2 separate regions of the Homo sapiens genome follow, and region 2 is linked to region 1. Evidence: fine-mapped expression QTL. A gene starts in region 1. The other region holds a variant in brackets. All regions are shown on one strand. Distances are from middle to middle.

Region 1 (5,374 bases):
CTTTTGGGAGGGAAGTACTTGTTCCACGCGTCTCACTGAATATGGCACGGAACCTGATCTGTCCCAAGTGGGAGTTTAACCAAGCTAGCGGGGGCCCAGGGCCCTGGCCCAGTCTGACACCTACCTCCTCTCCCACCTTCTACTCACCCAGAAGACTAGGAGAATCTGAAAGCAGAGGTGGTGCAGCGTCACTAGCTCCAGGAATCCAGAAAAACAGGGATAGGGCATTCTGGGAGGTTGAAGTGGGTGGATCACTTGAGCTCAAGAGTTGGAGATCAGTCTAGGAAACACGATGAAACCCCATCTACACAAAGCAAAAATTAGCTTGGCGTGGTGGCGCGACCTGTAGTCCCAGCTACTCAGCAGGCTGAGGTGGAGGATCGCTTGAGCCTGAGAGGTCCAGGCTGCAGTGAGCCATGATTGTGCCACTGCACTCCAGCCTGGGTGATAGAGTGAGACCCTGTCTCAAAAAAACAAAACCAAAAAAACAGAGCTAGGGCTGGGGACCCCTATGGCCACTGAATCTGAGCCCCTGGGGGCAGAGGAACTGAGCTCCCAGCCCTGTGGCTGCCAAGGATCCTTTTTCCTTGAGCTTGCAGGGATTGAGAGAGAGAGAGTCAGCGGCCCTGATGTTAGCGATGCAGACTCCAGGAGAAGGGGGCATGCTCGCAGTTTAGAGGAAGTGAGCCCCTCTTCCACGTTCCACTCCCACCATCCTCCTGGGACCCCAGCCTGCATGCCCCCCAAAAGATGCTTTTGCACTGATTCAACAAAGCCTAAAGATGCAAAGGCCTAATTGAAGACCTGTGAATGGCATGTACGGTCCTCAGTTCCCAGCTGAGGGGCCACTCGGGCTCCCCATATTCCCCTCAGCCTCTCCATCTTCCAACAGGGGTGTGGAGTGCATCCATGGCCATGAGTATTGATCTGTCCCAGCCTGTGCATTGCTCCGAGGCAGTTCTGAGTGGATGATGTACAGATGGGATTCCTCAGCTCATTTGCGTGGTTGACGTTATGGCTGCTGGTTTTACTGCCACAACTCCCAGGCCCAACCTGGCTTAATGTCTAAGTTTTAAGCCAAAAAAGATGGGGAGCAGAGCTTTGTGGCAGGGCTGGGGGTTGGGGTCCACTTTAGTTTTGTGGCAGGATGAAGGCTGCAGTGGTTTTATTAATCATGATTGGCCTGGCCGTAGCTCCAGGCTGAGAGGGACAGGTTTGTCAGTGGTGGTCCCCCAGATGTCCCTGTGCCCAGCCCTGGCCTGTCTGCCCTCAGGCCCAGCAGGAGGCGCTACCACAGGCTCTGACTGGCGTCCCTACTCCCTGTACCCCAGATGGACAGAACCTTCGGGTCTACAGTCGGAATATATCATTCTCCCCATTTTAACCTGAGCTGCCTGACACACGGAGGGTGTGCTGGGTAAGGGGCCTAGGGAGCCAGGGTTGAATCATGGATCCTGGGGAAAGGTTGCAGACACAGGAAGGGTTGTCACCTCTCTGTGGAGCCCTGCTGCTTACCACACAGCACCTTCTGCAGAGACTAGCTCTGAGGGTGGCAGGGGACCCCACAGGCCATGGCCACTCCCTCTCTGCACCTGTCCGTGCCTGCTGTGGAAGCCTGGACTGGGGGAGGAGATTGCTACCCTGTGAGCCTGAGGGAGCCACGTCCAGCTGTGACCTCTACCTGGGGCTTTACAGAGAGTTGTTTATGGGTAACAGACACCTTGTTTCAGAGGGAATGGGCATGAGCTGGCAAGTGAAGCACCCCCACAGCTTATCAGGAACTTTTTCTCATTTTTAAACCATCATGTCTTCATTTCACATTGGAATAAAGTGAGGTTTTGGAACCTGCTGCCCCAGTCTCTGGATTGTGAGGGCTGTTGTCAAACAGGTTACTAGGAGAGGAATATGTATAAATTAGCTCAAATTCAAGGTTATGCTTGTAATGTCACCTGAGTGGGAAGTAAGAGGGTGGAGTCACAGGCACTCAGCTGGGATTTACCTGGCCTCGTCACTAGACTAATGGGATTGTGGCACAGGTGAACATCCCGTCATTGGAGAAGAAAGGCTGGATTGAAGGCCAGGTGGGGGAGGGGTGCTAGGCTGTGGGGTCAGGCCCTGGGCATGCTGGACCTGTTAGGTCACTGAACATCTGACTGGGCACCTGCCCAGATTTGTCCCTTCAGTTGAGGTGGGATTGGCAGCACTCCCCAGAAGGCGTGCAGTGCCGGGAGAGTGGAGGAGGGTCTGACGTTTGCTATCCTGTGGTAGGTTTTAGAGCTAACTAGATGCTTGTGGAGAGCTAATGACATGGGAAGAAGGCAGCCCACCTTGATGGACCGGAGGGTTAGAGCCTGCGATGTGAGAAGCGGGTGTGTGGAGGTGGCCTGTCTACAAGAGGGCAAGTTTAAGGCCCATTGCAGTGGCACTATCTCAGCTCACTGCAGCTGGTGGCTGCCAGGCCATCCCTCTCCAGAGCAGGGAGGCCCTCAGCCTTATGTATAATTGAATGCCTTTTGGGATGCTTGGATAGTCCTTTATGTCTTGGAAATTCAGAAAAGAAAAAAAAAATTACAATCCTCCTGTCTGTTAGTTTCCCTGAGCCAACTGGATAAAAGATGTCCCTGACCCCAAGATTTTAAGTGACACCCAAGGGAAGCCACCGTTACCTTGGCTGTTGAAGCCTCCTGCATGCTCCCCAAAAACCCCAGCAGTTTCCTCTGCAGTCCCACAGTTATGTCCTGAGCAGTGGGGTACCGTGTGATGAGAGGTGCTAAGGATGGGATGAGGGTCTTTCCTGTGTTATTAGAACGGTTAAAAAGTTGTTTTAAAGGTGCCCAAATGCCCTCCTTCTTAAACTTAATTAGCTAATAAGATGCCTTATACAAGCAAAACCAGGTACGGGAAAGCAAGTGCATTTCAAGTCCAAGCTCACCCCTTAAATTAGCTGTAATACCCTCAGCAGGTGGCCCCACCTCAATGAGCCTGTCTCCCATTCAAAAAGCAGAACGAGTGAGAGGGCGGGGCCTGGAGCTTTACCCAATCAGTGGCGTCGGAGTGGAAATCCTCCAATCGGGAGTAGCCGGAGAGCAGGGGCGGCTTCCGGGATTTGGCGGTGGCCTTTGTTGGCTGCAGTAAGAGCTCAGTCTCTTCACCAGGGGCTCCCAGTCCTTCCATCTGGGAGGCCAAGGCGGCTTCGCGTTCTGAGAATAGACAGAACCTCTGTTACTCTGTGACCGGCAGGCACCGGGAGATCCGTAGCTCAGACGCCAGGACATCCCGGAAGCTGGGAAATGGTGAATGTGCCAGGTCGGGGGTCCCCAGAAGAGGGAGAGGGGCGGTCGGAAGCGGCGGGAACCCTCTTTGAGGTTAGCTTCGGGGTCTGGGCCCTGAGTCCCCGCGGACGCAACTCGGCCCTTGGTCCCCTCCGCCGCAAGATGGCGGCCGGGCCGGCAGCCGGGACCCCGCGCGTCCGGTCCCCTCCCGACCCCGCAGAGCGACCTCTGCCATGGCCGGAGCCGTCTTTGGGTCGCCGCAGCCCGGCGTCTCCCGAGATTGTGCGGTGAGAACGTGAGGGTCTTAGGGGAAATCCCGGGTCGGCGTGTGATTCGTGTGTGGGAAGATACTGTGCCCCGTGGTGTCCCAGTCTCCTTTTTCCTCTTACAAATTAAGGGGAGTCACCCTTAAAGCGTTAAAGGGTTGATTTAGGTAAACAGCGATTGGTGAAATGGGAAGCCTGCCGCCGTGGTTTGTGGTTTAGGGTCCTCTGGAGCAGCGATTTCAAAATCCCAGGGCTCAGCTTAGGAATGCTGCTGGGGAAAAGAAATAGGGACAATCTCTCTTCCACTTTGGCTGTAGAAAACGAATACATTTCCACAGAAAGTGTGCTAGATTAATTGGTCAATTACAAACATTCATTAAAATATCAGGTCCTCTCTTTTGCAGTGGAGGATTTGTGACAGTGGATATCTGTGTTCCATATTCTACTGCTATCTGGATGTCCGACTTTAATGCCAAATGTTATGAGACAGGACTTGGCACCTCCTAGAAGTGTTCACATATACTAAATGATCTGCTATTATGGAAATAATTAAATGACATGTTTCTTGCTCGAAAGAGGTATTTTGGCCTTACCTGTTGAAGTATAAAGTGTAAGTGCCTTACAGTTTCCTTCCTTTCTATAAAAACTGTTTTGAGTGATTTTGCTATTTTCCTGAAACCTGTTAGGTCACTGAACATCTGACTGGCTGGGCACCTGCTCCTGTCCCTTCAGTTGAGGTAGGATTGGCAGCACTCCCCAGAAGGCGTGCAGTGCCAGGAGAGTGGAGGAAGGTCTGACGTTTGCTATCCTGGGGTAGGTTTTAGAGCTCGCTAGATGCTTGTGGAGAGCTGATGAGATGGGAAGAAGGCACCCCACCTCGATGGACCTGAAAGAGAGAGCCTGCGAATTGAGAAGCGGGTGTGTGGAATAACCCTGACTAGGCATAGAAGACCTCAGTCTTATTTGAGCCTGCAAAAGGAGGTCATTGAAGGCCCAGTTAGTTCTTCCTGGGGAGCGCCCCCTTCAGGTGTCCCTGAGGTTCACAGCAGCCATGGAGGGAGCCCTTTGTTACTGGGAGAAGCTGCAGAGTTCTGGAAAGCAGGGGATTCACAGGCGGATGTGGTCGAGGTTGGGCTGGAAGGGAGATTGGGAAGCTCTTTCTGAGGGTGGAATTGTTAGTGTCCTGGGGCTGTTTCTTGACTTGGTCAAATAAAACATCTGGATATAGGTAAGAAGTGCCTTAATTGTAAAGGAGTATTGCAAGAGGAGGAAAGCACCAACTGTAAGATATTTGTGGATCTCACAGTTGAAGCAGAAAAGGCCTTTCTTTCATAGGGAGGAGCAAACATGATTCAAGGTGGGAGGGGAAGGGCACGACTCCTGGACTAAATCAGATCCCTGATCAGAGAATGTTTCACCCTGAAGTCAGCCTGTTCTTAGGAGGGGCATAAAGAGGGGTTGAATGTTGACTCAGGCTGTGGGTGGGACAAACCTCAGGCACCTTGGAGAAGGGGAGAAATTTAAGCAACTTTGGTTAACACATATTTTGTTTTGACCATCGAAGATAAAACTCTTTATTTAATTGCTTATGAGGGGGAAAAAAAGGAAATAGGAGAGTTTGTGGCTTTGTGATACCTAAAACAGGGAGCATCATCTAAGTCATAACAGGAAGAAGATTCTTTGCAGTAAGCTGCTCTTGAAGAACAAAAAGGAAGGGGGATTTCTTTCATCACAGCTGCTTCCCAGGGTTAACTACCTACTCCATCTTTTCCCCACTCCTTTCTCTTGCCCTACACATCTCTTCCATTAGGCTGAGTTGTATCTTTTATAATAAAC
Region 2 (5,374 bases), 27 kb before region 1:
GTGGCTCATGCCTATAATCCCAGCACTTCGGGAGGCTGAGGCAGGTGGATCACAAGGTCAGGAGTTGGAGACCAGCCTGGCCAACATGGTGAAACCCCATCTCTGCTAAAAATACAAAACTTAGCGGGATGTGGTGGCATGTGCCTGTAGTCCCAGCGACTCAGGAGGCTGAGGCAGGAGAATCGCTTGAACCCAGAAGGCAGAGGTTGCAGTGAGCTGAGGTCGTGCCACTGCACTCCAGCCTGGGTGACAGAGCGAGACTCTGTCTCAAAAAAAACAAGATGAGGAAGCACTAAGGTCACCCCTCTCCTCAGAACAGTGCATGACAAAGATAACCCTCTTCTTCTAGGGATGCAGATCTCAACCCAGGCTGCGTGTGAGAACTGCCCAGGGAGATTTTCACAAACACGATGGTCTCCTCCAATAGAATGTGTTTCTTAGACCTGTTTCTCCACATTTCTTGGGATAAGTTTATCAAAACCATTTTACTTCGCCTTTGTAGATGCCAGTTTGATACATCTTTCTCTTGAACAACTTTTGTCATTAATATATACACATCCCCACCTTATTTTTCACTTTTCTAACTCAGAGAGATATAGAAAAAATAAATCAACCAAAGTGTTTTTCCTTTTTCCTCACTCGACAATCAATACAGAATACTTCTGTGTCTTCTGTCACCAAAATGTATGGAGATTTCTCTGAATCAATAGCCTGGGAGTTGTATAATTCAGTTCTTTTTTCTTTTCTTTTTTTTTTTTTTTTGAGATGGAGTCTCTCTCTGTTGCCCAGGCTGGAGTGCAATGGCACAGTCTCGGCTCACTGCAACCTCTGCCTCCCGGGTTCAAGTGATTCTCCTGTCTCAGTCTCCCGAATAGCTGGGATTACAGGTGCCCGCCACCACGCCTGGCTAATTTTTGTATTTTTAGTAGAGACGGGGTTTCGTGTTGGCCAGGCTGGCCTCGAATTCCTGACCTCAGGTGATCCGCCCACCTCGGCCTCCCAAAGTGCTGAGATTACAGGCGTGAGCCACCACGCCCGACCAAGGTTGCATTGTTTTGTTTCTAATTAGCCTTTCCAAAGGAGGCAACAAGATACACATTTTTCTCAGTGAGCAGAGGGATGACTTTGAATAGAATGGAAGGCAGGTTTGCCCTAAGCAGTTCCCAACTTGACTTTTCCCTTTAGATGAGTGATTTTGGGGTTCCAATATTTATTTACCTTTCACTGATTTAACAGACAGAGAGGAACTGGAAAGAATTCAAAAATGAAGCCAGCAGAATTCTTGCACCACAGAATCAGTGTTGCAGCCTGGGAACAGGCATCCTCTCTCCACATGTAGAAGCAATGCCACTTCTTCACCTGGATGATACAGTCTCTTGACTGTAGATACAATTTCACTGTAACAGACCATTTCTTAGCCCCACCCCAACCTCTGAGGAGGGAGAGAGGCTGAAAGTTATTTTCATATTTTCTACTAAAAATATGAAAATTAGCTGGGCGTGGTGGCAGGCATCTGTAATCCCAGTTACTTGGGTGGCTGAGGCAGGAGAATCGCTTGAACCCGGGAGGTGGAGGTTGCAATGAACTGAGATGGTGCCGTTGCACTCCAGCCTGGGTGACAAGAGCAAGACTTCATCTTAAAAAAAAAAAAAAAGAATGTAACCGTTTGTCATGCCTTTGCTTTGAGTTGTCCTGCCTTTCAGGACTGAACCAATGTTCATCTTACATAGATTGGTTAATATCCCATTTCTCCCTAAAAATGTATAAAACCAAGCTCTGCCCTGACCACCTTGAGCACATGTCATCAGGACCTCCTGAAGCTGTGTCACAGGCATGCATCCTTAACCTTGGCAAAATTAACTTTGTAAATTGACTGAGACCCATCTCAGGTACTTGGGGTTCACAAGTTTCACCACTAGCTCCACAGGCATCCCAGCCCTTCTCCTTTGTCTGTTCTGGCTGCAGCTTCCTCCCTGCCCTCCCCACTCCAGGTCATTTCACATGGGACTTCATCATTCTGATGAGTAGTCTGAAATTATGCTAATGCCATGAGAAATCATTTTCAGTGGGAGTTTGAGGCCATTTTTTTTTTTGAGACAGAATTTCGCTCTTGCTGCCCAGACTGGAGTGCAGTGGTGTGATCTTGGCTCACTGCAACCTCCACTTCCCAGGTTCAAGTAATTCTCCTGCCTCAGCCTCCCGAGTAGCTGGGATTACAGGTGAGCGCCATCACGCCCAACTAATTTTGTATTTTTAGTAGAGACTTGGTTTCACCATGTTGGTGAGGCTGGTCTCGAACTCCTGACCTCAGGTGATCCGCCTGCCTCAGCCTCCCAAAATGCTGGGATTATAGGTATGAGGCCATTTAAAGACATTAAATACAAAATTCTGACCACTTAATTGAGAAAAAAGGAAAGCAATGTTAATGTTATCACCTCAGGCCTGTTAGAACGGTTCTTATCAAAAAGACTAATGATTTCAAGTGTTGGCAAAGATGTGGAGAAAAGAAAACTCTTGTACCCTATTGGTG[G/A]GAATGTAAAGTAGTACAGCCATTCTGAAAACGGTATGGACGTTCTTCAAAAAACTAGAAATAAAAGTATCCTGGCCAGGCGCAGTGGCTCACGCGTGTAATCCCAGCACTTTGGGAGGCTGAGGCGGGCAGGTCACGAGGTCAGGAGATCGAGACCATCCTGGCCAACATAGTGAAACCCCATCTCTACTAAAACTACAAAAATTAGCCAGGCATGGTGGCGCATGCCTGTAATCCCAGCTACTTGGGAGACAGAGGCAGAAGAATCCCTTGAACCTGGGAGGCAGAGGTTGCACTGAGTCGAGAATGCGCCACAGCACTCTAGCCTGGTGACAGAGTGAGACTCCATCAAAAAAAAAAAGGTATCCTATGATCTAGCAATTCCACTTTTGTGGTATATATCAAAAAGAATTTAAATTAGTATATTGAAGAGAGATATTTACCCTCATGGTTATTTTGGCATTACTGACAATAATCAAGATATGGAAGCAACCCAAGTGTCCATCAATGGATGAATGAAGAAACTGTGGGCTGAGCATGGTGGCTTATGCCTGTAATCCCACACTTTGGGAAGACAAAGCGGGCAGATGGCTTGAAGTCAGGAGTTCAGGACCAGCCTGGCCAACATGCCCGTCTCTACTAAAAATACAAAAATTGGCTGGGCATGGTGGTGGGGACCTGTAATCCCAGCTACCCAGGAGGTTGAGTCAGAAGAATAGCCTGAACCCAGGAGGAGGAGGTTGCAGTGAGCTGAAATCATGCCATTGCACTCCAGCCTGGGCAACAGAGCAAGAACCTGTCTCAAAAAAAAAAAAAAAAAAAAAAAAAAAAAAAAAAAAAGAAAAAGAAAAAAGAAAGAAAGAATAGAAAAGAAAATGTGGTGTATATATATATTGGAGAACTATTTTTCCATAAAAAAGAGGGAAATTATGTCATCTGTGATATCTTGGATTTAACCAGAGGATATTCTGCTATGTGAAGTAAACCAGGCATAGAAAGACAAATACTATATGATCTCACCTATACGTGGAATCAAAAAGGTTGATCTCACAGAAACAGAGAAAAGAGACTAGAAAGGTGGCAACCAGAGGCTGGGTCAGGGGGACGGGAAGAATACGGAAAAAGAAGATGTTTATGGAAGGATACAAACTTTTATTTAGTCTGGAGGAATAAGTGTGTTCTATTGTACTGCATGGTGAACACAGTTAATAATGAATTGTACATTTAAATCACAATATTCAATTTTTAATATTCTCACAACAAAAAAGATGCTAAATTGGTGAGTGGATGGCTATGTTAATTGGCTCAATTGAATCTTTCCATACTGTATACATATATCAAACATCACATTGTATCTCATAAATATATAATAATTTTTTTTAATTGAAAAGAAAAGGGTGGAACCAAGATGGCCGAATAGGAACAGCTCCAGTCTACAGCTCCCAGCGTGAGTGACACAGAAGACGGGTGATTTCTGCATTTCCAACTGAGGTACTGGGTTCATCTCACTGGGGAGTGTCAGACAGTGGGTGCACTGCACTGAGTGTGCGCCGAAGCAGGGCGAGGCATCGCCTCACCCGGGAAGCGCAAGGGGTCAGGGAATTCCCTTTCCTAGTCAAAGAAAGGGGTGACAGATGGCACCTGGAAAATCGGGTCACTCCCACCCTGATACTGCACTTTTTCCAACAGTCTTAGCAAACGGCACACCAGGAGATTATATCTCCCGCCTGGCTTGGAGGGTCCTATGCCCACGGAGCCTCACTTATTGCTAGCACAGCAGTCTGAGATCAAACTGCAAGGCGGCAGTGAGGCTGGGGGAGGGGCATCCGCCATTGCCGAGGCTTGAGTAGGTAAAGAAAACAGCTGGGAAGCTCGATCTGGGTGGAGCCCACCACAGCTCAAGGAGGCCTTCTTGTCTCTGTAGACTCCACCTCTGGGGGCAGGGCATAGCCAAACAAAAGGCAGCAGAAACCTCTGCAGACTTAAATGCCCCTGTCTGACAGCTTTGAAGAGAGTAGTGGTTCTCCCAGCACGCAGCTTGGATCTGAGAACGGACAGACTGCCTCCTCAAGTGGGTCCCTGACCCCCTAGTAGCCTAACTGGGAGGCACCCCCCAGTAGGGGCAGACTGACACCTCACAAGGCCGGATAATCCTCTGAGACAAAACTTTCAGAGGAACGAATAGGCAGCAACATTTGCTGTTCACCAATATCCGCTGTTCTGCAGCCTCCGCTGCTGATACCCAGGCAAACAGGGTCTGGAGTGGACCTCCAGGAAACTCCAACAGACATGCAGCTGAGGGTCCTGACTGTTAGAAGGAAAACTAACAAACAGGACATCCACACCAAAAACCCATCTGTACATCACCATCGTCAAAGACCAAAGGTAGATAAAACCACAAAGATGGGGAAAAAACAGAGCAGAAAAACTGGAAACTCTAAAAATCAGGGGGCCTCTCCTCTTCCAAAGGAATGCAGCTCCCCACCAGCAATGGAACAAAGCTGGACGGAGAATGACTTTGATGAGAGAAGAAGGCTTCAGATGATCAAACCTGAGCTAAAGGAGGATGTTTGAACCTATGGCAAAGAAGTTAAAAACCTTGAAAAAAATTAGACGAATGGCTGACTAGAATAACCAATGCAGAGAAGTCCTCAAAGGACCTGATGGAGCTGAAAACCATGGCATGAGAACTACGTGATGAATGCACAAGCCTCAGTAGCCAATTCAATCAACTGGAAGAAAGGGTATCAGCGATGGAAGACCAAATGAATGAAATGAAGCGAGAAGAGAAGTTTAGAGAAAAAAGAATAAAAAGAAATGAACAAAGCCTCCAAGAAATATGGG

What was found. PIP is the estimated chance that this variant, and not a neighbour inherited with it, causes the effect.
Region 2: its variant is the best candidate, but not a certain one, in a credible set for the expression of KRABD5 in whole blood (TOPMed, PIP 0.85).

Annotation. Positions count from the first base shown.
Region 1 is chr16:31,710,143-31,715,516 of GRCh38, forward strand. KRABD5 (KRAB domain containing 5) reads left to right here and starts at 3,102. Exons shown (of 5, transcript NM_001130913.2): 1 at 3,102-3,293. The coding sequence starts at 3,291. RefSeq lists enhancers at 3,269-3,388, 4,513-4,562 and a silencer at 3,479-3,538.
Region 2 is chr16:31,683,297-31,688,670 of GRCh38, forward strand. No RefSeq gene overlaps it. Among named protein-coding and RNA genes, the nearest start is that of KRABD5, 27 kb to the right of the region's middle. The variant G/A (reference allele first, on the strand shown) is at 2,531.